Linked DNA regions of Homo sapiens. The protein of the gene in region 4 purifies or fractionates together with the protein of the main gene of each other region. This does not show direct contact. Each region holds a gene or a part of one and is shown on either strand. Other genes may lie near its edges.

The links.
Region 1: the proteins of TENT5C (region 4) and MDH1 purify together in Homo sapiens (affinity purification with mass spectrometry, with the first as the bait; 2 studies listed by BioGRID). This does not show direct contact.
Region 2: the proteins of TENT5C (region 4) and ACAT1 purify together in Homo sapiens (affinity purification with mass spectrometry, with the first as the bait; 2 studies listed by BioGRID). This does not show direct contact.
Region 3: the proteins of TENT5C (region 4) and PLS3 purify together in Homo sapiens (affinity purification with mass spectrometry, with the first as the bait; 2 studies listed by BioGRID). This does not show direct contact.

Annotation. Positions count from the first base shown.
Region 1 is NC_000002.12:63,584,495-63,591,982, forward strand, and holds the start of MDH1 (malate dehydrogenase, cytoplasmic), read left to right. Parts: upstream 1-4,468; 5' UTR 4,469-4,549; coding exon 4,550-4,552; intron 4,553-4,651; exon of another isoform or gene 4,652-4,833; coding exon of another isoform or gene 4,834-4,890; intron 4,891-7,488. Other genes in the region: WDPCP (WD repeat-containing and planar cell polarity effector protein fritz homolog), read right to left, coding at 3,703-3,777. UniProt on the Homo sapiens protein: Catalyzes the reduction of aromatic alpha-keto acids in the presence of NADH. Plays essential roles in the malate-aspartate shuttle and the tricarboxylic acid cycle, important in mitochondrial NADH supply for oxidative phosphorylation.
Region 2 is NC_000011.10:108,116,972-108,124,576, reverse strand, and holds the start of ACAT1 (acetyl-CoA acetyltransferase, mitochondrial isoform b precursor), read right to left. Parts: upstream 3,011-7,605; 5' UTR 2,971-3,010; coding exon 2,899-2,970; intron 2,782-2,898; exon of another isoform or gene 2,651-2,781; intron 1-2,650. UniProt on the Homo sapiens protein: This is one of the enzymes that catalyzes the last step of the mitochondrial beta-oxidation pathway, an aerobic process breaking down fatty acids into acetyl-CoA.
Region 3 is NC_000023.11:115,634,150-115,641,176, reverse strand, and holds part of PLS3 (plastin-3), read right to left. Parts: intron 6,297-7,027; coding exon 6,131-6,296; intron 4,342-6,130; coding exon 4,199-4,341; intron 1,068-4,198; coding exon of another isoform or gene 1,041-1,067; intron 770-1,040; coding exon 674-769; intron 1-673. UniProt on the Homo sapiens protein: Actin-bundling protein.
Region 4 is NC_000001.11:117,623,038-117,628,906, reverse strand, and holds the end of TENT5C (terminal nucleotidyltransferase 5C), read right to left. Parts: coding exon 4,863-5,869; 3' UTR 518-4,862; downstream 1-517. UniProt on the Homo sapiens protein: Catalyzes the transfer of one adenosine molecule from an ATP to an mRNA poly(A) tail bearing a 3'-OH terminal group and enhances mRNA stability and gene expression.

The DNA.
Region 1 (7,488 bases), on a different chromosome or scaffold from region 4:
AAAATGAATTCATTTTCAATCAATCCAATGGATTTCAATGAATCCATGTTGGTGTGTAGCTATGTTCTATTCATTTTCAATATATTTTTACATTTTCCTATTGATGGCCATATGGGTAATTTCTAGAGCTGTGCTCTTAGAAACAGTGCTTATGAACATCTTGTACATCTCTTGATTTAAATGGGTATGTAAAGGAATGGAATTGCTACATTACGTTTCCAGATATAATGATCACTCTGTGTTATTAGCCTCATTGTATTAATAAATGAAGATTTATAGAGACCAGGAAACTTGTTCAAGGTCACACAGCTAGGTAGTAAAGTTAAGACCAATAAATTCTGCTCCTTTCACTTGAAAAAAACTCAAGGTTAGGTAGCTCATACTTCTGGAAACATGTAATTATCAAACAGAATCCTGATGAATAATGTTTTATCTTGTTTAACTAAAGTTAAAAGAGGAGGTCCTAGCAAATTATTCCACTCAATTCTACCACTTGACCACTCAAAGCAACTTGACTACGTAATGATCATGATTAAAACTTTTATCCTATTAAAATATCCTGTATTTCACCATTCCTGAAAATTCCAGTCAAATGTTATAGTTTAAAATGTGTACAAATTGTGTATGTATAAAATTGTAAGACATAGTAATAAAGTGGTTCTCATTGAGACTACAGTTTTAAATTAAATTACAAGCACTTTTATTTTTGCCATAACTAAATTTGGAATTACTACGTTTAAGATTCACTAAAGTGAATGTAATAATTATTTTTAAAATACTACATATTCATTTTAAGAAATTACTTGAGAATACTTTCAAAAATGTCCTGCATGTCACTTAAGCCAACAAATAATTTCCAAGATACCTAGCATTACACTTAAATTTTAAAAAGGGTAAAAAGCCAAAGTTTTTTTTTTCAGCTAAGGTCAACTATTTAGCTCTGCAATCTTTCCTTTAAAAAATATTTGTAATAATTTGGTCTCTGATTTATTTCACAAGTCTTAACCTTGCTTTATAAATAATCCTATTTTCAATCACACTCCATTATCTAACATGGCTGTTTACTAAATACATGATCCTATGGTAAAGTACATATTTCTAAAAATGTAGCTACTTAGACAGACAGCAATGTAAAGGCATCTTTACATTATAGTACTCTCTAAATATTACATTGTTACTTTCAACAAAAAGGAACCAGATTATAACAAAATTGTTATAAAATAGCTTAAAAGTGTAATAGAACTTCATTAAAGAAAACATTAAGATGAATGAGTTTTAACTAGATCTATAACAATTTTATATATGCTAGAGATAAAATTAATATGAGGTTAAATAATTTTCTTTTTTTTTTTTTTTTTTTGAGACAGGATCTCCCTTTGTCGCCCAGGCTGGGGTGCAGTGATGCCAGTGCAACTTCTGCTTACTGGGCTCAAGCAACCCTCCCACCTCAGCCTCTTGAGGAGCTGGGACTACAGGTGCACAACACCACACTCAGCTAATTTTTTAAAAATTTTTTGTAGAGACAAGGTCTCAGTATATTGCCCAGGCTGGTCTCAAACTCTTCGACTCAAGCAGTCCTCCGGCCTTAGCCTCTCAAAGTGCTGAGATTACAAGTGTGAGCCACCACGCCTAGCTGTGGTTAAATAATTGTATACTATAAAAAAGCATAAGATCTTGTGAGTTCCAAAGTGCCTTGGGTATCAAGAGCCAACATTCTATTTCAGAGATTTGAAACTTAATGATCCTTTAATATCTTTGCTGGATGTTGTTAGAATGGTATTTCAAACATTTTCTACAATTTGAATTAAATATTACCTTACTAAATAACGCGAGGCTGGGCAAAAAAAATGTTAAGCATAACTCCAAATATAGCATAACAGTTTAATGCTCTGTTTGTTGCCTTAACAAAAAATGAATGTCTGCAACACATTCACAAACCACCTGGAGATTCAAACTCACAGTGAAAGTGCAATGACATATTGTGCTACTTGACATTAGCTATTACCAAAGACGGTTCAAAAGGAAGAGAACACAGACAATCTTATTAGTATAATTGGAAATGTGCTGATATACCCACCTTACCAAACATCTTCTCTTGCAGTGTATTATATTACCTGAGAAAAGTAACTTACAATCAGTGCTAATATGCTCCTTAACCTGATTTACAAGGGCAACTAGCAATAAACAGAACAAGGCCCGTGAACTACCACACAGGTGACTTCAATTCTGTATATCTGGACTGGATGGGAATACGGGGGCTTACATGTTTGTGGCCTTCTTGGAGTATGGGAATGTCCTGTCCTGCTATAGGACTGCAGTGAGAATTCTGGTTATAAAAAGTCTCCCTTGTAAAATTCACTGTAAATCGAGGACAAAAATCATGAGATTGTTTTGTTATACTTTAAGTTCTAGGGTACATGTGCACAACGTGCAAGTTTGTTACATATGTACGTATACATGCCATGTTGGTGTACTGCACCCATTAACTCGTCATTTACATTAGGTAAAATCATGATATTTTTAAGGACAACAACATGGAAAAATCTTTCTGTTAGCAGCTAGTAGAAGAATTCATTTAGGAGGATAATGGAAGAAATTTTTCGTAACTGCTCAGAGTAAAAAGTAAAACTCAGAGAACCTAGGTTTGAGAATAATGCACACCTACTAATTCAGGACTAGACACATAAATTTGAGAGTTTTTGACATTAAAAGTAGCATTTGAAGTGATGCAACTTATGAATTAGCTCACTGAGGGATTTAGTATAGACAGAGAATACAGGCACCCCAATGTTAAGAGATCACAACTAAAAAAAATTTAGAAACTCCGCAGAACTGAGAACCAGTAACAAAAGAGGAAAACCAGGAAAGTATGTTGTCTGAGAGCCAAATGAATAAAGAGATACAAGGAGAGTCATTCAGGTATGATATTAATAAATGCTAAAAGTAAAGCATTACATTTCTTTCCAAAAATAGCAAATCCTCCAAACTGAAATAGAGAAAAATTGAAAGATATTACTTGGCATTCATTTATCAGTGACAGAGAAAAAACGGAAGTTCTAACAATGTTATCTAATAGAGATGTTTTATTCATTTTCATTACGTATATGCTGTGTATGCTACTCCCGAGCATCATATCTTCCTTTTAACATCCACAAGAAACAAGCTTTCAAAAAGCACAGCAATTCTCTTGGCAGCATTAATTTTAAAGAGAACCTCTTAAGTTGTTTTACCAGCTGAGACTGACTGACTAAACAACCAGTGTCTCCCCTTCAGTCGCCAGTCTTTCCTTAGAAATGCCTGTTTGGCATAACTTTAAGACTCAAGATGGTTTAAGGCGCATCCTGTTTCTTCCAAAAGGGAATGGACAAAACTCAACATTCACGGAGGGCTTAGAGCAAATTAGAACCGTATACTGTGACCTCCTGGAAGGGAGAGGCTCACCTCCTACAAAGTAAATGCTCAATAAATATTTTTGATATAACTCTGGAAGAGCTCCATTTGGGGTCGGGGGTGCACCTACTCCAGGGCACCACCCCCTCCAAAATAGCTGCATTCCCACAGCCCTCATACTCCGCTCAGAAAAGGGACCGGCGAGCTTGCAGGCATCCGCACAGCGGATAAAAGCAAAGCGGGACGGCGCACCAACCGCATTCCGGATCCTAAGGTTAAAAGAAAACCCCTTGCCCTCGGGCCAGGGCTCACCTGTCTCGGGAGTGGGGAAGAAGCGCGACTCCCGGCCGCTTTGGAGTAGGCGTCCCAGCAAAACTCTCGCCTCATCACCAGACACTACCCCGGGCAGAAGGTTCCTAGGCTAGGTCCTCGGACCCGAGAGGGAGCGACACGCTCGCTTGGTCTCTTGGGTCTCCAGGACGCCGCCGCCGCCGCCACAGTTTCCTCAGGTGCTACAAAGCAGCCAGGGTGTGCGTGCGCTCCCGCCTCGTCGCTTAGCAACCTGAGAAGCTGTCCGGTCGTCCCAACTTATCAATTCCCCCGCCCCTCCAGAGTGTCAATCGTTTTTTAAAAGATTTTGTTTCCGGGTCGATCCAGCTTTACGCAGCGGAAGGTCTCTTTACCTCCCACGTTTACCCTCATGGGAGGATGCAGTCTCAGTCACGCGCGTGGGGGTGATGTCGCTAAGGGGTGATTCTCCCCTCCCTAGAGTTACACACGCTATCTCTCCCGCCAATTGCCGGGCTCCATCAGGCAGGTCCTTTCCTCCTGAGCCCAAACCATCCGTTTGTTGTCGTCCTCCAATCACAGGGGCTCATCCTCAGGGACTACTTTGCAATCGGCGCAGAGCGCAGTGAGAAGAGCTTGAAAAAAACCTCTGGTATCGGGAAGTGTAGTTCAACACTTGAAGGAAATGCTTTGGAGATTGCGCCACAACCAGGGCAGCGTAAACTACAGTTCCCAGAGAGCGCCGCGTCGGGAGCGGAGCCTTTTCTCGCTAACACCGCTCGCCCTCTCCGAGTCAGTTCCGCGGTAGAGGTGACCTGACTCTCTGAGGCTCATTTTGCAGTTGTTGAAATTGTCCCCGCAGTTTTCAATCATGGTGAGTGTGGGCCCCGGGTTCCTGCCCACCTCTGGCCCTCGCGCCCTTGAGTGGGGTTTCTTGCACTTTAGGGACTTTTGGGAGGCAGCTGTGCAAGGCACTGTCCTTCGCGCCCTTTGGCAAGCTCGGACTCATCTTCTGGGGATTGCCGCAGTGACCCAGTAATGGGAAGGGATTGATTTCCACCTTGCGGGGTATGGGGCGCTCTTAGGAGGACTCTGGAGAAGTAGTTGTCCTGGGAGAGGAGCGATCTTAATCCTGCTGCATGACGGGAGGACAAAATGCGACGCTGCAGCTATTTTCCAAAGGACGTTACGGTGTTTGATAAGGACGATAAGGTTTGCGATGGGAGGGAAAGGTTGGGTCCTAACCCCTTTTTCTCCTCATTTGCCCACAGTGTTTATAACGGCTTTTGTCACAGGGACCTTGAAAGCAAAAAGCTGGAAAGGTAGTATTTACCAGGTGCTCCAGATTACGATCTGCGTTTGCAGCAGACGTGTTTCCGCCATATCTAATTTCTCAAAATGTTATTTGGAACCCGTTCATTGACCTTTTTTGTAATGCCAGGATATATTGAAGTGACAGCATCACTAACTAAATAACTACTGCAAATATTCTTTATTGAACTGTATATTGTGAATTCCAGAAGCACCTCTCTTAAATGTAACAGAGTAACCATTTTGTCATGGAAGACCTGGGTAACCTGCATCTCCATCGCTTGTCTCTGCTGAAAGAGAGGGGGAGGGGGAGAGTTGGTGAAGGAACTCTGGCGTAGGAATAATCTGCGTACTGCTTGAAGGTGACATTTGTCATCAAACTCAGAGAAATCGCTTCATACTATCAATACAATGGCTTGTATTTATAGTTGCGACTGTTTTTCCTACTTTATCTGCAAAATACTAAAACGGCTGGAGAATGTGGAGAAATGTTTGAATGAATTGGAAATTTCCCAGAACCTGAAAAGACACGTTTTCAAGGCAAGGGCATTACTCTCTCTGCCTGTCTAACGGGGCCAGTGGAGACAGCTACTAATTTCCAGTAGGTGTTAAACCTAGGTTTCCTAAATGTTTTGTCACATAATTAGTCATTTAAATTATGGTTTCGGTAGTTTCTGTCCTAATAACCTTAGCTAGAAAGCAGAGGTACTTATTATCTGATAACCTTGGACTTTTTGCTTTTAGAACTGAATGGGATCTTTTAAAGGTCATCTTGACGAATCTCCCCACTTCAGATCTTAAAATGGAGTTTATCGAGACCCAAAGAGAATGTGATTTGCTCCAAGAGTCTCACACTCTTGCCATTTTTCTATATTGTGTCTTACACTTACCAAGTCTTTCTGAATTTTTATTTTTATAGGGACCACCGCAGTGAGGTCTCGCAGCGGGGGAGAGACAGTGTACTCAACTCCCTGAAAACTTATTTTTACTAGCTGAGATTCCGGATGAAGTTACCAGTTCATACTGCATATACAAACTCAAATATGTTATCAGCATGTAGATTACTTGATAGCTTTATTCCTTGCCATTCAAAATACTGGAATTGTAGAATTAAAAGGGAATTTGGAGATTATATTATCTACTCTTATAATGTAGTCTGGTGAGGTCAGATAATTTTCCCAAGGTCACAGAGATTTTGGGCCCCAGATTCTTAGCTAGTTTCCCTAGCAAGGCCCCACCGTTGGAAGGTCACTGGGGTGCCAGATAACACAGAGACAGAACATGAGGAAGAATTTGTCTGGCAGTTTGCTGGAACTGACAGCAAACTCACACATGACTCAATTTCCCTGCCCCCTCAGGAGGGTGTGTGAATGGACAGAGTTAGAAAAGAGCCTTCTTCTGTAAGCTCATTCAAAGCGGAGGATTCTTTGCTTGTTGTCTGTAGGGAGTGACAGCAAAATAAACTGTATGAAGGAATCTAAATGGTACTGCTTAGTTTTTTGTGTTATAGAAATACATGTAATTTAGAAATATATATAAATTTGAAAGTGAAAAAGAAATATGTGGCTCTGTCTGTGGAATAACAGACACTTAAATTCAATCTTTATAGCTGAGAAGTTAGCACAGAGCCTGCATCTGCAGGAAAGTCATTGGTGCCCTGCTAAGAGCAAAGACGTTCCTTTTTTGGACCTTGGCACACTGCCCAGATATCTGAGCAAAGAATAGTAACCTATGTTCACACTATAACATTGTGAAAGTCAGCAGGACTCTCCCACCCTCCTGCTTTTCAACTGCAATGTTGCAGAAGAGCAGAAAGAACCATACATGGACTTTTCTTTCTCTGTTTCATCTTCAGACATTCAAACACTAAGCCTCATACTACCATTAATAAGATGGAATTACCTACCTGGGAAAGTAATTTCCCCAAAGACACAGAAGAAAACTGCTGAGGTGGAATTAACTGTTCATTAGGTGGCCACAACCCCTTCACTAAGGACTGTGATACTGTGAACATGTTTTTAAGTAGCTACTAAAATTGACTGCATTATTCTAACCATATAGGTGACCTTATGGGAAGTTAAACTTAATAGATAGTGATCTTCACTCTCTTCAGCCCCCCTTTTCTTATCCTAGTTTGCTGTTCATTGAAGTAGTATCTGTTCATACTTTATACCCTAACCTTCCTTCATTCAACAAATACTTTTTGTGGAAATGCAAATCCATATCAAAGACAGACTGTTCTCAAGAGCGCTTCATGGCCTAATACAGAGCAACAGAAATGTAAATAGAAAACCACAGGCTATTAAAGTCTTTAGAGGAAAATTCTGTGATGATATTTATAAATACTCACTACGTACTGTTCTTAGTGCTTTGTGTGTTAACTCTTTTAATCCTTAAAACTACTCTGTTTGTTAGGTAATTGCTATTATTATCTCCATTTTACTATGGGGAAATAATACAGAAAGGTTAAGTAACTTGTCCTAGAGCATGCAGTTAATG
Region 2 (7,605 bases), on a different chromosome or scaffold from region 4:
GCCAGGTGTGGTGGCTCACACCTGTAATCACTTTAGGAGGCTGTGGTGGGCAGATCATCAGAGGTGGATCACCTGGTGAGCTGGTCAGGAGTTCGAGCCCATCCTGACCAACATGGTGAAAGCCCGTCCCTACTAAAAATACAAAAAGTAGCGGGTGTGGTGGCACATGCCTGTAATCCCAGCTACTCAGGAGGCTGAGGCAGGAGAACTGCTTGAACCCGGGAGGCCAAGGTTGCAGTAAGCCAAGATCGTGCCACTGCACTCCAGCCTGGGCAACAAGAGCGAAACTTGATCTCAAAAAATAAAAAAGAAAGAAAGAAATTAGCAACAGGAAGGAAGTAGCATACAGGCTGTTAGGTCAAAGGGAAGAAGCAAGGTTACCAAAGCCAAGGGGTCAGGATCCCAGCAGAAGCGGGAACCACAAGAGAGACAGACACTGCCAGATACAGACAGACAGACAAATTATTCTGGCTTCTCCCTTCCTCCTATCTTCCAATCTTCCACTGGTGCCTTCCAGTGGCTACACCCAGCCAGAAGCCAGCTGATATTGGTCAGCCTACAGTAATGCAGACAGACTAGGGGAGGGAAGATAAATGAATCTGGGAGCAAATAAGCCCAAGACTGGCACAATACAGGAATTTTTTTTTAAGTCTGAGTATTAAAAGAAGCTGAATAAAACTGGATCAAAACACAAAACAGTTTCAAGAAGGGAGTGGTCAATAGTGTCAAATATAGGATAAAGGTCAAGAAGAAAAAACTTGGGCTGAGCACAATGGCTCACACCTGTAATCCCAGCACTTTGGCAGGCCAGGAGTTCAAGACCAGCCTGGCCAACAGAACCAGACCCCGTGTCTACAAAAACTAAAATTAAAATAGATTTAAAAAAATAATTAAAAAACAAAGAAAAAGGAAATCACTGTATTTTTCAGCTTCAGTGGCAAAGAAATTTAACTGCAGAGAGTTAAGGAGAAATAGATGCAGAATACATGGGAGGTAATGAGTAAAGACCACTCCTTTGACCAGAGAGAGAAAAGTGATTAGAGCTAGAAAGGCAATGTGCTCCAATAAAGTCCATAAAGATTTGTTGACCATAAAAGAGACCTGGTAAGCAAAGGGAAAAGAGCCAATGTAATGAGAGGTCAAATTCCATTCTACAAAATAGCACAGAAAACTGGAAATCCTGTTTATAGTTCAGTAAATGACCATTTAATTCAAGTGTCCAATACAACTGCTTCCTAGAGTTCAGTAATATGAATGTCACATATCATACATTACAGCATGTACAGGCTTATTTTTTTCATGAGGAGTATTTGTGTTTCATTTTAAGATCTTTTTTTTTAAGACGGAGTCTCACTCTGTTGCCCAGGCTGGAGTGCAGTGGCATGATCTCAGCTCACTGCAACCTTCCCCTCCTCCCGGGTTCAAGCGATTCTCCTGCCTCAGCCTCCCAAGTAGCTGGGATTACAGGCGCCTGCCACCACACCCAGCTAATTTTTGTGTGTGTGTGTATTTTTAATAGAGGTGGGGCTTCACCACGTTGGCCAGGCTGGTCTTGAACTCTTGACCTCAAATGATCTACCCACCCCGGCCTCCCAAAGTGCTGGGATTACTGGCATAAGCCACCTCAACCAACCTGATTGTAAGATCTTAATTAAACCATAAATTAAGAAGGTTCTGAACTTTTTTTTTTTACATCTCTAGAGTACCTAGTTCACCTATGTCACCTAGTCAATACTGACTGAAACCCAAGATAACCTAATTACTTTCTTGTGATTTCTTCACTCATCCCATGAGACTAACAAATAGGCTAAAAACTCATCTTCCCTGGAAACCTACGCCTTGTGACTTTTCTATTATCTCAGTCACCCAGGATCAATTTTAGACTCTTTCTTTTCCCTTGGCTTCGCACCCTCACTCCCTAATTGTCAAGTCCTAGACTGGTTCTTTTACAATCTCTTGCAAAGCTCCTACCGCCAGCACCCTTGTGCAAGTAATGTTATTCTACGCCCAGACGTAAGAACTAGAGTGACCTACCATTGCAACAAAAACAAACATATCAACAATCCCTACTTAACTAGGGTCAAGTCCATACTCACAACATAACTGGATCTCCAAGCTTATTGCCCCCATCGACCTAGAAAACTCAAGCTTCACCAACCACACCCTGAAGGTCTCTACCTATTCCTGAGGCTTTGCCTGACAATCTGTGGTGCGTACTCCCTTGCTTACGCATGTGGAGAATAAATTCTTTGAGACTCTGCCCCTGCTGTGTTCCCTAAACACAACGGTCAGAAGAGCGACAGCCCTTGGAACGCCCTCAGTATGTGAGCTTTGCTCATATGTCAAGTATAATTTATTGTATTATCTGAGTAGTCATTTGTTTTCCCTGATAAATTTCAGGCTGCTCCAAAAAACATCTGTTATGATCACATGGTGCCCTCTCCCCTTGTATGCCCAATGATTATCTATTGTATTAAAAAAGAAAAGGAACCTCTCCTGACAATAACGCACACAAATATGTTTTAAAGAAAATCTCGGGAGCAGCTGCACAGGCCTGCAAAGAGACTCTCCCCGATCCCACCGCTCAGGCCGGGCCAGCGCCAATCCTGGCGGTCCTGCCCGCCCAGACACGTGCCCTTGTTTGACACACCAGTAACGCTCATTAAGATGATTACGCCGAGACCTTGGAAGTAGAAACGCGCTGTAAAAATAGGCGAGTCCCTGGGTGTTATCGGAGCACTTAGGCGGTTTTTGGACCAGAACCCGTCGCGTGACTGTCCTGGGGCCTAAGCCGCGCGCCCGGGCCGCGGGAGCCGCAACGGCCGCGGGCTGGAAGCTTCCGAGGCGGGGACTCCTCGCATCCCGGGTCTGAGTGCTGTGGGGACGAACCCCGCTCACCTGCACCAGCCTCCGGAGCAGGGGGCTGCGGCTGCGGGCGCCGCTGCGCAGAAGTGCCGCCAGCACAGCCATGGTCGCAGAGGGCTGAGTATCGGCTCCACAGGCGTAGACTAGCGGCCTCCTCCCCAACCCCGCACCCCTAGCGGCCCGGCGCGGGCACCGCCCATCCCGCTTCCTCCAATAGTCGCCTCTCAGTCGGCGGCGATTGGCCGGCAGCCAAGGGCGGGGCGGAGCCTGGCGCTGGGACACCGCAGCCTGGGCCAGGAAAGGTTGACGAGTGAAGGACGTGGATGGAGACACTGGCGCTGGGGTCAACGAGCACCTGACACGCTGCTGGCTCCCGTGTCCACCAAGTCTAACCTGCCGGGGCCGGTGGTTTATGTGTAATCCGAGATTTTTCGATTTACTGAGCATGTTTCCCTTAGGCCTACCCAGCACAAACTCATGAAAATATTTTAGGATTTTTTTTTTTTTTTTTGAGACAAGGTCTCACTCTGTCACCCAAGCTGGAGTGCAGTGACGTGACCACAGCTCACTGTAATCTCGACCATCAGGGCTCAAGCGATCCTCCCTCCCCAGCCATCCCAGTAGCTGAGACTACAGGCGAAAGCCTCCACAACCAGATAATTTTTGTATTTTTTGTGGAGACGGGGTTTCACCATGTTGGCCAGACTGGTCTTGAACTCCTGGACTCAAGTGAGCCTCCCTCCTCGGCCTCCCAAAGTGCTGGGATTACAGGCGCAGGCGACCACGCCCAGCAAATTGTTGTATTTTTTTTTTTTTGTAGAGACTAGGTCTCCCTATGTTGCCTAGGCTGGTTGCTGACTCCTGGGCTCAAGCAGACGGCCAGACTCAGCCTCTCAAAGTGCTGGGATTACAGGCGTGAGCCATCACACCCAGCCGTGAAAATATTTTGAAGCAATCAAATTCCAGGCTCAGTCCAGATACAAATATGGGTAAAAAGGCCTCAGGTGATTCCAGTCCCCAACCTTCAACCACTCCAGCTGAGACCCCAGACATCATGGAGCAGAGACAAGCCATACCCACCATGCTGTCTGAATTCATGGTCCACAGAAACGAGAGAAAACAAATGGTTGTTATTTTAGGCCATTATGTTTTGGAGTATTTTTTTTTTTTAAGATAGGGTCTCGCTCTTGTCACCCAGTCTGGAGTACAGTGGTGCAATCATATCTCACTGCAGCCTCAAACTCCTGGTCTCAGGGGATCCTCCTGTCTCTGCCTCCCAAGTAGCTAGGGGATCCTCCTGTCTCTGCTTCCCAAGTAGCTACGTAGCTAGGACTACAGGCATGCTCCACCATGCTAATTTTTTTAATTTTTATTTTATATAGAGAAGGGGTCTTGCTATGTTGCCCAGGCTGGTCTCAAACTCCTGGCCTTAAGAGATCTTCTGGCCTTGGCCTCCCAAAGCACAGATATTATAGGCATAAGCCACCTAAATAGGTCTGTTTGGGGGTAATTTTTTTTTTTGAGACAGTCTCGCACTTGTCACCCAGGCGCGATCTTGACTCACTGCAACCTCTGCCTCCTGAGTTCGCCTCAGCCTCACGAGTAGCTGGGATTACAGGCGCACGCTGCCAAGCCTGGCTAATCTTTTGTATTTTAGTAGAGACGGGTTTTCACCATGTTGCCCAGAGGCTGGTCTCAAACTCCTGAGCTCACGCAATCCGCCCCCACTAGGCCTCCCAAAGTACTGGGATTACAGGCGTGAGCCACTGCACGCGGCCAGGGTAATTTTTTAATATAGCACCCTGTCTTTAATTTCCCCATCACTCCAGGTTTGTCCCTTAAAGTCCCCTGTGATTCCTGCACCGAAGAACCTCTCTATTCAACAGCTCACCAAGGCCTACCTCCTTCCTTGGAATGTCACACTCACACCTTTCCCTTCTACCAGAGGCCAAAGACAAATATTTTTCATACTGGGCTGCTTCGAGAATTATTGAAAGGAAGTCATTACATTGTATGTCAGTGTTTAAACTTTGTGTGTGTGTGTGTGTGAGAGAGAGAGAGAGAGAGAGAAACAGATATTTCTAACTGAAAAAGTTGAATTGTTAAAGAAATGACTCAGAAAACTAAAGGTCTGGCCTCATAGAGATTACCAGTTGTGAGAGGCCAAAGCTGATGACTAGGGTATCACACAGTAAAAGATGACTGGTTAGGCTGGGCGTGGTCGCTCACGCCTGTAATCACAGCACTTTGGGAGGCCCAGGTGAGTGGATCATTTGAAGTCAGGAGTTAAAAGCAGCCTGGCCAACATAGCAAAACCCCATCTCTACTAAAAATACAAAAATTAGCTGGGCATGGTAGTGGGCACCTGTGATCCCAGCTACTCAGGAGGCTGAGGCAGGAGAATTGCTTAAACCTGGGAGGTGGAGGTTGCAGTGAACTGAGATCACACCACTGCACTCCAGCCTGGGCAACAGAATGAGACTGTGTCTCAAAAAAAGAAGAAAAAAAAAAAGACTGGTTACATAGCTATGTACATAGTTCTTAATATGAACCAGTTCTTTTACAGTTTAATTTTAATTCTCCCAAAAATCCACTGAATTAGGGAGTAGCATTATCCACATTTTCCAGAAGTTTGTCCAAGGGCACAAAGCTAGTAGTTAGTGACACAGTTGCAATTGGAATCTAGGCAGTCTGGTTGCTAGGTCTAGGCTTCTAGGCACTCACTACACTAGTTGTGTCTTAGGAGACACCTGCCCTAGGAGAAACCTAACTAGGAACATAGAAGTCAGCTGTAATTGGACAATTCTGCCATCAGAGGCACTACCAGGAAAAAGTGCCACTATGTTCATCAGGACAGCTTCTAGAGAAGTTCAGAGACATTTAGGAGCATTGAGGGGAGAAGAATAGTACATTTATTTCTGGAGCTACAGCAGGCAAGCTGCTCTTTAAAACTAAACTTCAAAAAAATAAGAGTAGCTTTATCACCAATATGAGCACCAGGCAAAAATGTAGCTAATAATTTCATTTAAGAATCTAGGACTTGGCCGGGCGCGGTGGCTCACGCCTGTAATCCCAGCACTTTAGGAGGCCAAGGCAGGCGGATCACAAGGTCAGGAGATCGAGACCATCCTAACACGGTGAAACCCTGTCTCTACTAAAAATACAAAAAATTAGCTGGGCATGGAGGGGGCCACCTGTAGTCCCAGCTACCTGGGAGGCTGAGGTAGGACAGTGGCGTGAACCCAGGAAGCGGAGCTTGCAGTGAGCCAAGATCGTGTCACTGCACTACAGCCTGGGTGACAGAGCGAGACTCCGTCTCAAAAAAAAAAAAGAAAGTGACTAGATTAACATTTCTTCTGTGAAATAGAAATGGAGTGTTGGAATGAAAATTAAATACAATTAAGAGAGAATTATTTTTGTTTGTATTTTAAAATTTATTATTATTAGTACTAGTATTTTGGTAGACACAGGTTCTCACTATGTTGCCCAGGCTGGTCTCCAACTCCTGGGCCCAAGCAATCCTCCCTCAGTCTCCCAAAGTGCTGGGATTACAGGTGTGAGCCACCACACCTGGCCAAAGAAAAAATTTAAAAACATTTTTTGCATATCTGAATTTGTGGCTTTGGATTATCATTCCTGTCATAGCAGGCAATAGTGTCTGGACAGATGTATTAATGAAGAGCTACTCAAAAAGTGGTTTATCTGGGATTTATTACATTTGTCAAGGAGATCTAGTCAATACCTCCATCTAGTGGCAAACTTGTAAGTGGAGACTTAGGTCTTGCAAAGTATTATTAAAATATTGATAAAATAAAGCCCTCTGAAATGTCCATGAGACCCAGAGTGGCTTTCTAGAAGTAGAAGTTAGTTTTAGGAATATTAGAGCAATATTTTCACAGCAGGAAACTAGTGGAAAATTAAAAACATTTAAGAAAAACTTGTGGGTATTATATTTATAATACAAAGATGTTTGATATTCATTTCCAAGTAAGTTCTTCTACAACGAACAACTTCTGTCAAACTTAGACTACTGGAATAACTCGTTGTACTACGTTAAACAGTGTCCTTCCAAAAGATATGTTTGTTTAAGGGACAGGGTCTCTGGCCAGGTGTGGTGGCTCATGCCTGTAATTCTAGCACTTTGGGAGGCCAAGGAGGGCAGATCACCTGAGGTCAGGAGTTCCAGACCAGCCCGGCTAACATGGTGAAACCCTGTCTCTAGTAAAAATACAAAAAATTAGCTGGGTGTGGTGATGGGCTTCTGTAAGCCCAGCTACTCAGGAGGCTGAGGCAAGAGAATCGCTTGAACCCAGGAGGTGGAGGTTGCAGTGAGTCGAGATCGTGCCACTGTACTCCAGCCTGGGCGACAGAGCAAAACTCTGTCTCCAAAAAAAAAAAAAAAGAGAGAGACAGAGCCTTGCTCTGTCACCCAGGCTGGAGTGCAGTGGTGCGATCATAACTCACTGCAGCCTCCTAAGCTCAAGTAATCCTCCTGCCTCAGCCTTCCAAGTAGCTAAGACTACACGTGTGTCACCATGCCCACCTAATTTTTATTTTTTGTAGAGATGGGGCACTCACATTTCCACCCACTTTCTCTTCAAGGCAATCTAGGCTTAGTCTATCATGTGCCTCAAACTTCTTCCTCTGCCCATCACCCCAATCTATTAATAAAGGCACTTCCATGTTTGTGTATATTAATATGGCAGCACCCCACTTTTCAGTACCAAAATCTGTATTTGT
Region 3 (7,027 bases), on a different chromosome or scaffold from region 4:
CATAATAGGCTAGATATGTGGATTTTGTTAATTAGTAGCATGCATTCCATATCTAATGGGTACAAAAACCACAGATTCCTAGAAACTTGGGACTAAATAGTTCACTCTAACTCCTTACTTTATGGATGAACAAAGTGAAATCCAATTTTGAGAAGGAACTTGTCCAATGTCACTAAACAAATTAGTGACATAACCAGGGAACATGGTCTCTGAGAGTAATTCCCTAAATTAGATTTCATAGATTGGGAGTTTGTAAAACATAATCACATTACTCTCAACACAGGAATATGAATATATAGTCACTAAATCTATTACTGTGGTTATAATCCAAATACTTGGAAAAGGTTTTCATATAGTCACTAAATCTATTACTGTGGTTGTAATCCAAATACTTGGAAAAGGTTAGCTTCTAGTTACTTATTTCCCCATACTTGTTTTGAATATTTTATGCCATCCATATAAATCAATACCACAACAACGATGGAATTCACTAACAATCAAAATAAATCAAAGCTAGTTTTCTGGCCTCTGAATTACATGTACAGTAATACATTTTAAAATAATGCTTAAAATTGCCAACTCTACTTCATACGATTATAAAAATTATTGTACTTATAAGAAATTGACAATAATTTTGCAAGATTGTAGAATTCAAAAGAGCACTTATACTTACATTGAAACCTGACATGTTAATATCTATCCGTGGTTCACCTTCCTTTTGTCCTTTTGGTGCGATTTGATTGAGAAGATGGAAATAGGCTTTGGAATCCTACAAAGAATTGAAAATGTCAGTGAGATCACAGTTACAAGGAATGAATGTATCCTATTGTCCCATGTTTGGAAGGCTATTTGCATTGGATTTTTTGAGAATAAATGGCACAAATCTCTGCCTTTTAATTTAACAGGTGTTTTCCCCAGAAAAGTCCATCTATCTGCCTTATATCTGTCTTGCATATGGATGAACTGGATTTTGACATGACTTCGCAATTATTAAAGTCATCAATACAATAATGCTAATAAACATATAACCAGTTCTGTACCTTCACTGAATTACTGAAGTCAATAAGCTTGACAGACAAAACAAGCATTTAAAAAAGTAGGAGAGCAGAAATCCAGGAAGCATAGAAGAAAGAGAAAATAAACAGGTTATATCATTACAAAGCACAATGCATATACCACAACCTACGAAGAAGAGATTAGCTATGTTAAAGATGTATTTAATTGTAAATTTAAATGACAAAAGCATTAAATGGTAAACATTTTAGTTGCTAAAATAACACTGAACCCTCTATGATCTGAATGTACTTAACAAAACAAAGGTCTCTTTTCGTTTTAAACCCCTGGACTAAATCACTTGAATGTTGTTTTCTTAGAATCCCAATACATAAAACAATGGGGTTGGCTCACAGTCAACATGAATTCAGGTTGTGTGGACAACTCCACAAAACACAGCTTGAAAACTATTGTACTTGCACAAACGCTTATTAAGAACCTTTACACACGTGTCAAGTAAATTCCTGCATCTTTGGAATGCTAGAGGACCGGAATTTGAGTCAAGATTCCTTAATCCTGCCATATGTGAAGACCACCTTCCAGCTACGATATTAATAGTTTCCTGTTACTGGGCTTTGAAGGTCCAGACAGGCTATGAAGGAGTGTTTCTCATAGTCTATGTGCATACTAACCCCTGAGGAAGTTACTCAATATGTGAATTACTGAATCCAATTCCTGAGCTACCAAATATAAATGTCTGGGAGCTGCCCAGAAAGGTGCCTTTTAAACCAGTTACCCAGGTGAGTTTGAAACTTGGTGCCATAAATGATTCTAAGAATGGGGAAAATCAGGTAATTGAAAGCTATTTCAGAGCAATTCATAAAATGCCAACTCCGATTCTATCATTTGGGGGCATAGCATTTACCTCTTAAGGAATAGTGTACTACAATTGCGAAAGTGCTTTCACTTCCAATTACTTGCTAAAGCTACACAAACAATTTATAATAAACCTATGCTCTTGAGAAGAACAAGTAAAGAGCAGACCCAGCAAAATCTGTATTTACTACCCTGAAAAGGGCTTTACAGGTGAAAATTTGAACTTGAATACAGATAAACTGGAAGTTAGTTTTCACATTACCAAACAATTATTTCCTTTTTAAAAATATTGATGGCCGGGGGCGGTGACTCATGCCTGTAATCCCAGCACTTTGGGAGGCCGAGGTAGGCAGATCACGAGGTCAGGAGATCGAGACCATCCTGGCTAACACGGTGAAACCCCATGTCTACTAAAAATACAAAAAAAATTAGCCAGGCATGGTGGCGGGTGCCTGTAGTCCTAGCTACTCAGGAGGCTGAGGCAGGAGAATGGCGTGAACCTGGGAGGTGGAGCTTGCAGTGAGCCGAGATGGCGCCACTGCACTCCAGCCTGGGCGACAGAGCAAGACTCCATCTCAAAAAAAAAAATAAACAAAAAATAATTTAAAAAATAAAAAATAAAAAAATTCAAAGCAGGCTTCATTTACAAAAATAAGATTTTCTCTTTACATTTAAAATATATCCCACTACATAAAATCCATTTATGGTTGGCTTGCTGATTTTCAGGAACGCATCTAGTGCATGAAGCAAAATATACCTGGCTGGCCAGGTACCATGGCTCATGCCTGTAATCCCAGCATTTTAGGAGGCCGAGGTGGGAGGATCACTTGAGCCCAGGAGCTTGAGTCCAGCCTGGGCAACACAGTGAGACCCCATCTCTACAAATAATAAAAAAATCAGGCCGGGCACAGTGGCTCATGCCTGTAATCCCAGCACTTTGGGAAGCCGAGGTGGGCAGATCATGAGGTCAGGAGTTTGAGACCAGTCTGACCAAGATGGTGAAACCCTGTCTCTCCTAAAAATACAAAAATTAACCAGGCGTGGTGGTGGATGCCTGTAATTCCAGCTACTCAGGAGGCTGAGGCAGAAGAATCTCTTGAACCTGGGAGGCGGAGGTTGCAGTGAGCCGAGATAGTGCCACTGCACTCCAGCCTGAGTGACAGAGGGAGACTCCATCTCAGAAAAAGAAAAAAAAATCAATCGGGCTTGGTGGTGTGCACCTGTAGTCCCAGCTACTTGGGAGGCTGAAGTGGGAAGATTGCTTGAGCTTGGGAGGTAAAGGCTGCAGTGAGCCATGTTAGCAGCACTGCACTCCAGCCTGGGTGACGAAGTGAGACCCTGTCACAACAACAACAGCAACAACAACAAACCTGGCCAAACATATTGTGTAATTAAAAGAGAGGGCAGGGTCAGTTGGTCTTATAATTTTGGGGCTACTCTTAATTTTCATGGATGAAATCAGTAGTACAGGCAACTCACTGCTTCCTCTCATCACTGAACAAAATCATATCATCACATAGTATTGTTTTCACAGCCTTGCTGGTCAGTGACATCTGATGAAGATCCTTAAGTTTATTCCCTGTGTACCAACATCTGGATGTCACACAGAATTGAGGCAGTTAAGGAGAACTCCACACAATGTTTGCTATGGTAATGTTGGCCCTCTGCATGAGAAGCCAAAGGCAACATGTAATAAATGTCTTCCTCCATTGTTAGTTTTCCCCCACTGCTCATGATAAACAGTGAGTGAAAAAAAAATTCAATTCAATGCAAGAAATATGAGGGACTTGTATATGCCACATACTATGTTTTAAGTTGGCTTTAGTAGGAGGGCCCTGGAGCAGGGGCTGAGGTAGGATACACAGACATAAATAAGAGCTCATTGCTATCCTCGAGGAACTCACAACTAAAGGTAGGATAAAATGACAGGAGAGAAGCCAAATAAAAAAGGTGAAGAGGAAATCATGAGGCCCTTCCTATCTCTTCTAGGTGTGTTTACTAACAGGTACACTGAGGCTTGGGAAAGGCAGTTAAGAATAGAATAGTCATGTCCTATTCTTTAATACTCCATGTTTACCAATAGGCAGGATATAACAAATTAGCATTATAATATGATAAATTAGCATAATATTTTTACCTTTTCCCACAAAATAAAACATAGGTGCTAATGTACCTTATCTGGCTCTATTACTCTTCTAAAATCTACCTTCAGGGCCAAGAGACAACAAGGCTTGGTGATACAGTGTTAGGATTTTCTCTCTGTTAAGCTGGGATGAAATCTTCCAGCTATTATATCCCCCCAAAATGTTGTGATTCTTTCAACAGTTACCTTGATGTCAGCACTAAAGTTGTTAATTTTTTGCCAGCCCGAGTTTTCCAAATGAAAGTTTGCCCATCTAAGCAGAAGCTCTTCTGGAGACAATTTCATAAGTTCCTCCAAAGTCTCACCATCTCGGAGTAAAGCAGCCAAGGCTAGAAGAAAAAAAAAAAAATCCCACAGTTATTATATGACACAATAATGGTCATGCCAAGTTCATTCAGTCTTTTGACACTGTTAAGTAATAGAGGTGCAAAAACTACTATGACATAGTTCCTAGTTTCAAGATACTCATAATCTACTAAAAAAGATAAATATATAACAGATATAATAACATAATACTACAATTTATTCTTTTCTCTGTTATTCTTCACATTTCAAATACCAAATGAGGTTATGGCCTTTAAGCTTAATGCAAGCTTCACATTATGTCATATGTTTGTATAAGTTGTTCTTATTTAACACTTCTAAAGTCAAGGATTTGGGTCTGGGTGCAGTGGCTCACGCCTGTAATCCCAGCACTTTGGGAGGCCGAGGCGGGCGGATCACGAGGTCAGGAGATCAAGACCATCCTGGCTAACACGCTGAAACCCCATCTCTACTAAAAATTCAAAAAATTAGCCGGGCGTGGTGGCGGGCGCCTGTAGTCCCAGCTACTTGGGAGGCTGAGGCAGGAGAATGGCGTGAACCCGGGAGGTGGAGCTTGCAGTGAGCTAAGATCGCACCACTGCACTCCAGCCTGGGCAACAGAGCGAGACTCCGTCTCAAAAAAAAAAAAAAAAAAAGTCAGGGATTTGGGGGAAAGATGTTTACAATTTGGGAATCTTTTACTTAACCTTTTGATTAAAGTAGTCTAGAAACACGGTGGTATTTGTATTTAAGTAAAATTAATCAATTAACTCTTGAAGGCTCAATCCTATTTTAACAGAAATATAATTCATCCTTATATTTTCTTTTTCTTTTCTTTCTTTTGAGAGAGTCTCGCACTATTGACCAGGCTGGAGTGCAGTGGCGTGATCTCGGCTCACTGCAACCTCTGCCTCCATGATCTCGGCTCGCTGCAACCTCTGCCTCCCAGGTTCAAGCGATTCTCCTGCCTCAGCCTCCTGACTAGCTGGGACTACAGGCACATGCCACCACGCCCAGGTAACTTTTCTATTGTTTGTAGAGACGGGGTTCCGCCATGTTAGCCAGGGTGGTCTCCAACTCCTGGCCTCAAGTGATCCACCTGTCTCGGCCTCCCAAAGTGCTGGGATTACAGGCATGGTCCAACACACCCGGTTGCAATCTTACATTTTCTCTCTTTTTTTTTCTTTCTTTCTTTTTTTTTTTTTTTTTTTGAGACAGAGTCTCACTCTTTCGCCCAGGCTGGAGTGCAATGGCACAATCTCAGCTCACTGCAACCTCCGCCTTCCGGGTTCAAGCAATTCTCCTGCCTCAGCCTCCGGAGAAGCTGGGACTACAGGCACGTGCCACCTCGCCTGGCTAATTTTTTGTATTTTTAGTAGAAACGGGGTTTCACCATGTTAGCCAGGCTGATTGTGCCACTGCGCTCCAGCCTGGGTGACAGAGTGAGACCCTGTCTCCAAAAAAGAAGATGGTGCAAAATGGTGGAGCTGAGGGTGGCAACGGGGTAGAAGTTGTGTAGGCAGAACAGAAAAAAATAGATAATCAAGTTTGAGGACTTCAGGAAAGCTCCTTAATCTCTCTGTGCTTTTGTGTCATTATTGCAAAATGAATTGTAAAGTGCCAGACAAATGTGAATTACTAGTAAAGAAGAGAGTCATGTAATTAGGCTATTTTCCTGAATAACTCTATAGCATTACCTTATGTTCATTCTAGTTACCACCATTTAATCACCTCCATTAAGTGAGAGCACGAAAGTCTGCATGACTAGAAAAAAATAACCAATAAACAACTGCCAGAATGACTGTGTTCCATTACCTTCATTCCTGCTTAATTCAATGTCAGCGAACAAACCGATCTTAATGATCTGCCAAAGCAGTCCCAAAACCAGATGAGGTTTCCCAGCCCTCAAATCTTCTGCACCAATGTTCACAACATGACACCCAATGGCAGAAGCAGAGTTCAGTGCCAAGTTCAAGTTTTCCTGCAAGACAGCCAAATTACACACTTGCTTCTTGACCTTTCCATTTTTTAGCAGTCTACTTTCTCCCTTCACTGAAAATAACATTCAATGAGGAAATTAATACCCTGTATTAATTTCATCCATATATGTGTCACAAAAAACAAATTCCAGAGTTTTGTGTTAGAAAGCCTAGCTAAGACAAATTTCAGCCTTATTGCTATTGCCTTTTGCAGAATCTCATGAGAAGTTAACTTTGTATTTTTATTTGGTACCTTTTGAAGTATGCTGGCACTAAATGAAAAGGCTGAGTACCACAGTAAATATATCCATGTGAGTAAAGTGTTATAATTCCAAAAATGCCTAAATGGGTGAGAGACCAACAGTACTGCATATGCCCAAAAGAGTTTTAGAAGTTATCAATGTCCACATCCCAAGAGGTGCTCTTCTCTGAGGGAATTTTGCTAATAATCTAATATTCACTTGATAGAAAAAAAAATGCTCCATTTCTTAAGCACGCCAGTTAATTAAGAGCTTATATACTTCTGCTTATCTCTGTAGTGCTTGAACACATTATGAAATGAAAAGAACATGGGGCTTTGAAATTAGAATGGGATTTGAACCTCAGTTCCAACATTAATCTCAGGCAAGCTCAGAAACCTTTCTGAGTCCCAGTTCTGTCTGTATAATCTGGATAACAATCCCACACTCAACAGTTTTTACAAGGATTGATTGGGAGCCTACAGAGTGCAGAG
Region 4 (5,869 bases):
TTGGGGTGGGCAGGGGTTGTTGTGAATTAGATCAAAGGAATGAGGAGGAAGGTTGCTAACCAAAGTCTACAGCATCTCTTTATACCCTTCAAACATCTATCAACCACTCCAAGTATCACTTGTTCACTTCTATACTTCTTTAAAAATGTGAAGAAACTACAGTAGTTGTACATGTATGGCTGAAGTTGTTTTCTTTGTTGTTGTTGAAGTGGGCTAGGAGCTAAAGGGACTGAATTAAACAAGGTGCCAGCAAAGGCGAACTGCAAGACTACACCTGCCGTGGGTATTAGCTGAAAGGCTGTGGTCAACAACGAAGCCTAGTTTAAGTTAGCTGGGCACCTTGAAAAAGAGCCCAAATATTAAGGGATTTGTGGTCTCCAAGGTAACCACACAGCCCTCCCCCCTCAAAAAAGCATCTGTCCTTCAGAGAAGCATCCAAGGCTGATGTTGACAGCTTCCTATTTCTATTCAATGTTTCCTAAAACCTAAAATTCATCATTGAGAAGAAACAAATCAATGAGCATAAATGACAAGTTTTATTTAAATTTTAAATATACCTTTATTTCTCAAACTCAAAGCTTTATCAAGTTCTAACACATTTTGCATTGACAAGTGATTTTATCTGCATCAAGTAAGGTTAGTGACCACCACGAAAGAGGAATCCCCAGACCTCCTAGGCACTAAGAAATATTTCAAAGGCTATGCAAATATAGAACAAAAAGCTTTCAATTTAGTCTAATTGGTATCTATTTTTCATCTATATTAATTTGGAAATAAGTTGCTACCTTAGAAAAATTACATTTTTATCCATTAAAATAAAACACCAGATAGGTTGAGTTTTTTTAAAAACACCCACAGATCTGTATTTAGCTACTTCCTCTTTAGTAGATGGTCATCTCACCTTCCTATGCAAACACACACAAGAATTTGCACCAACTCTCACTAGCCCAGGCAAAACTCCAAGCATTTTATTTAGCTTACACTTCAATTATTTTTTTAAAGTGATAGGTAAACAAGATTTAGGCACTTGAACACACACACGCACACACACACACACACACAGTCTTTTATTTCCTGATCTTAACCTTAGAGTTCTCCACAAATAATCCTGAAAAGTTGCCAGATCTTTAAAAATACCTCTCCTCAACACCGCCCCCCTCCCCCACGACTTGGTCCTCTGATTTTAACTGGTTGAATTGGAATATGTTCCAAAGCGAGCTGTGAAATTCTAGTCTCTGCAAGATTAAGGATGTGAATCTAACCTTGGAAACTGGATTCTTACAAAGTCCACCCAGAAGGTTTTCCCTGACACAGAGCCCTGGTCCGACACCCAGGAAGGAATGGCCTCTATGAGCGTCAGGGTCTCGTCTCACCATTGGATAACTACTTTGCTCTCAAAAAGAGGACATTTGAGCTAAGAATATAGCTGTATCCCAATACAAGGCACCAACCAGTACCAGAAAGTAAACTACAAAGGAGTTATTCCTCAAGTTAGGAAGTTGCTTTTGAGTGGCACCATTTCCCAAAGTCAACAAAGCAGTACTAGTTAAAATCCTGACGTACCATAAGGGTAAGGGGTTAGTGCAGAGGTGAAGCTGAAGAATAAGCAGATTCAGGGTTTTAGCAATTTGATTATTAATGTGTCACCACAAAACACAAGTTCATACACAGCTTGCTGTGACTCAAACCCCAGTGAAAATCAAACTGGACAAAAACTGAAATGCCAAACTACATCTGTAGCATCTATCAGGAACTAAGCATCATCTTCCTTACCCAACTCACCCCATCTGCCAGGTCCCCCAGGTGTGGGCCATCCCACAGGCATCCCCATCAGGAACTCTGATTGGAAGGCATTAGTAATAGAGTTCAGTTTCAGCATTGAAATTATTGAATGAGGAATAATGTGTTACTGCCAAGGTAAGATTTAAAGGGGAGACTAGAGCTCAAGGTCAGGCATCTAGTGCGTGCTATTCTGCCAATGTGAGAGGAAAAGGTACTGTCTTCATCTCACTGATGCTCAACCTGACTCCAAGCAGCAGGCTAGGAGAACAGGCTGCAGACATGCCGAAAGCATCAGAAAAAGAGTCAAATCAGAGTCCCGAAACAAATAAGAGACTGCTTAACTTTAGATTAGAACTTGCATGTGAACTTCAGTGCTCTCTGCTACTGCCAAGTTTCATGTTACTCAACACACACACATACACACACACATAAAATAGGAACCACTGGACTCAGTATAAGCTCAGGGTACCTGGTGCTTGTGTGAGCATTAGGAAAGGCAGGTTTCAGCTAGAGTTTCCAGGGCCCTGAAATTCAAGGTTACCTCGCCTATTCTGAGGCTGGCAAAAGGCTCATAGAGCAAGTAGAGACATCACTAGCCCAGGGGTTGTGTTTTAAAAGTACAGCTTTGGTCAGTGCAGCTTTTAACCCTGATAGCTCTTGAATAGGTCTATTCTCAAACTACAAAAAGATCTGAGCTGACTAAAAAGGTCAGGTGAAGGGACTCCGAGACAACCATGGTGCAATGGTGGCAAAGACTGGGGACTGGGTCTTTCTCGCAACTTCTGTGCCTCCTTTCATTCTCAGAAGAGGACTATTACCAGATGGGGGGGAAAAAACATAAGCAGAAAGAACCCCAAGGACAAACTGGAAATTTAATTCCTTGATGCAGATCTTATCTTCATCTGGTGCCTCATTACCCTGGGCCCCAAGCCTTCTAAGTAGAAGAAATACTGATTTCTGTTAGGCAAGTGCTTATGTTGGTGGCTTCATCACATTTCAAAGCTTTGGTTAAACACATCGGTCATTTTTGTGCAAACACATGCCATTTGACCACCATGGCAGCTTTTTAAGGTCATGAATGACCAGATAGTTTCCAAAGTTGGGATCACTCTTCATTGGGGTTCACTCTTCATTGCCCCACTCTTAACACTGAAGCACACTGGGTCCCCTCAATTAGAACCGGCCTTGACTCAAAGCCACTGAATTAAAATATAACTAAGGCTCACAGGGAAACAGGAGCTGATTACACTAAGAAGTGGCTTCTAGTCACCTAATGTAGCACAACATAGATACCAGCTAAGCCTTGAGTTTCAGTCATGGCTGATCTGCTTTTAAGAGGACCAAGACATCACATTCCAGAATAAACTTGAAAATATACTTTTAGAAAAAAAGGTAAACCACTCATTTTCTACTAAGCTCTTTTGCATTAGGATAACTTCACTGCTTAAAGCAAGGAGAAAACAATCACTCCGGGCTTTGGGTTTTCATAGCCAAAGGAAGGGGGAAAAAAAAGATCAGGAGCATGAATTTGATTAAATCACTTTAGAACCCAAGCTGGCTGGCAATATTGAGTGTCTCTGCCCTGAAGTGATGCTTTCTAAGGGATCCCACAAAACATTTCAAAACACATAATCTCATCTAAATCTACTGGAAAAAGCCACAGTAGCCTAGAACTCTCTCATCTACTAAGCTTTCTTTCAACTACAGATTAACACTGTTTTTCTTCTAAAGTGCAGAATTATAAACAAGTCAAATCTACCAGAATAAGGAAGAGCATTCTCATTCACTCAATTCTTCCCAAATATACTGGAATGATTTCAAAGTGCCTTGGAAGCTCCAATGCACACAAGGCCAGACTTCATGCTAACCCCCCAGCTTCCCCTTCACACAGAGCACGAAGACAGCAGGTTAGATTCTAAAGCAGTTCCACAGGTCACTCAGTTCTACCGAAATTCCTGAATTGAGTTGCTGTCAAACACACCTGGAGAAGGAAGTCACTATTTTTGGAAAAAAAAAAAACGAAAAGAACAAAAACAAAAAATAGCTAAAGTACTCCAGAAGAACAGCTGTGTCATACTTGGAATGTGACCAAAGTGGGTTTCCAGTTAAAACATGGGAAGACCCTCATGTCAGTTACCACAATGACTCTGGACTCAGCACAATCCTCAGTCTTAGGAAGAATAAAACAAAATTCAGCCATGAAAGAGCTGATGAGGAAAAAAGAAAAAAAAGGCAGGGAGCCATTTAATAAGAATTCTTTAAAGAAAAAAATGAACATTCATGTTTCCTATTTACAATTATCCCCTTCCACTACCACCACCACAATTCTAATTAAACATTATGTTCCACATTTTATTTTGTTTTCAAGTTACATTTCAAGAAAAGGTCATTTTTTTTTCCCCTCAGCAATATCTCGCAATTCCTCAGGATAGTACAGCATGTAAACCATAAACCACTTTCAACCAGATCTCAATTCTCCAGCTATTGGCTTTGGTTTATTGATGAATGACATTCTCCACTCCGCTGACAGGGAATAAACATAAGCAATTTAGTCCCTTGAACAAAAATTAAGTCACAAGAGCACCCTCATGTTTACCATTTTCTGCCTGACTAAAATTGGTACAAGAGAAGAGATTATCAGCACAACTTTCATGTAACTGCTGAGAATCCCAAGTGAGGGCCAACACAGCCTACCCGGGCTCAAGTGAGAAAACAAGTAGCTTAGCACTTCTCACGCGCTGCCCAAATTCTCCCAATCTCGATTACTGCACAGAGCTCAACCCCCACGTGCTAATGTTTGGGACATGACATGTTAGTGTCTATCTTGGAAAGATGTGGATAGGTCATGCTTCCTGTAGCGTTTTCCAACGTGGCACTGTAATACGGGTCCTTTGAGGGTTGGCTCATGATACACTGTAGACCCATTCCAATGGGTACACAAAGGAAAAAAAAAAAAAAAAGCAGAATCAGAGCTGAGTTCCCCTTTAAAAGCCAAATGCCTACATCTAGAAGGAGGCTCCCCTACCTGAGAGCCCTAGCCCTATTGGGGTTCCCACTGTGGAAACCCTCAGGTCTCAAGGTTAGTTACAGGGCAGCCAGGTAGGGTAAGGCTGGCTGTAGGTGACTGGAGGATGGGCAACGTAGTAGTTGCTGAAGTTGCCATCACTGACGTAAGGGGCCGGCTGGTAGTAACAGGTGACGTTGGTGGCACTGGGGATGATGTTTTGTTCCGCCAGCACACGCAAGGCCAGGAGGGAGATGAGGTTCAGAGTCTGCCTGCGTTCATGCCCCATGAGACACACGGTGCTCTCGTTCACCACCCTGCGAAGGATCATGAGGTAGTCGTACTTGCTTCTCTCTTCTTCAGCGAAGTGGTTTTGAAGGTAAGTCTCCAACTTCCTCTGCTGTTCAAGGATGTCCGGGAAGTCGATGAAGAACCTGGAGCACATGTAGCGCTCTAGAGTTTTGATTTCTTCCTGGTCTGTGGGCCTGAAGTCCCGCACAAGAAGGTTGCTGTACTTGAGAAGTCCCCCGCCTCTGATTTCTTCTGGGTTCTTGGTGGCGATCAGTCTGTTCTGCAGATGGTCAAAAGCTTCCTCAAAGTCCCCGTACATGCTCTCCCCAATCACGGTGGGGTGGAAGTGCTCAGAGATGGGATTATTGGAACAGTCATAGAAGAAAAGCAAAGAATCCAGGATGATTTGGAAAGAGTCCACACTGAACTCAAACTGACGCCGAATGGAGTCGACAAACTTCAGCTCCACGTTCTTCCCGTTCTTGTTGGAGAGGGAGATCAGGCTCCAGCGGTCAGTGTCCGTGCAAACCTTCACTAGCTTCTGCACATATGCCTCCTTCAGAGTGACTGGACTGATTTTGAGCTTGTTCACACCCTCTGGCAGGAAGTTCAGAAGGGAACACAGAACCACATCTCTAACCAGCTGAAATTCTGCCTCTGTTGGAAGAGCCACATGGAAGATTAGGTCCAGGTCTTTGCAGCCCAAGCCATTGTCTTTGACCAAAACGTGGCCAGCTGCGGAGCCATTCAGCCGGACGTCGTGCACTTTGATGCCTGCCTCCTCCAGCCGAC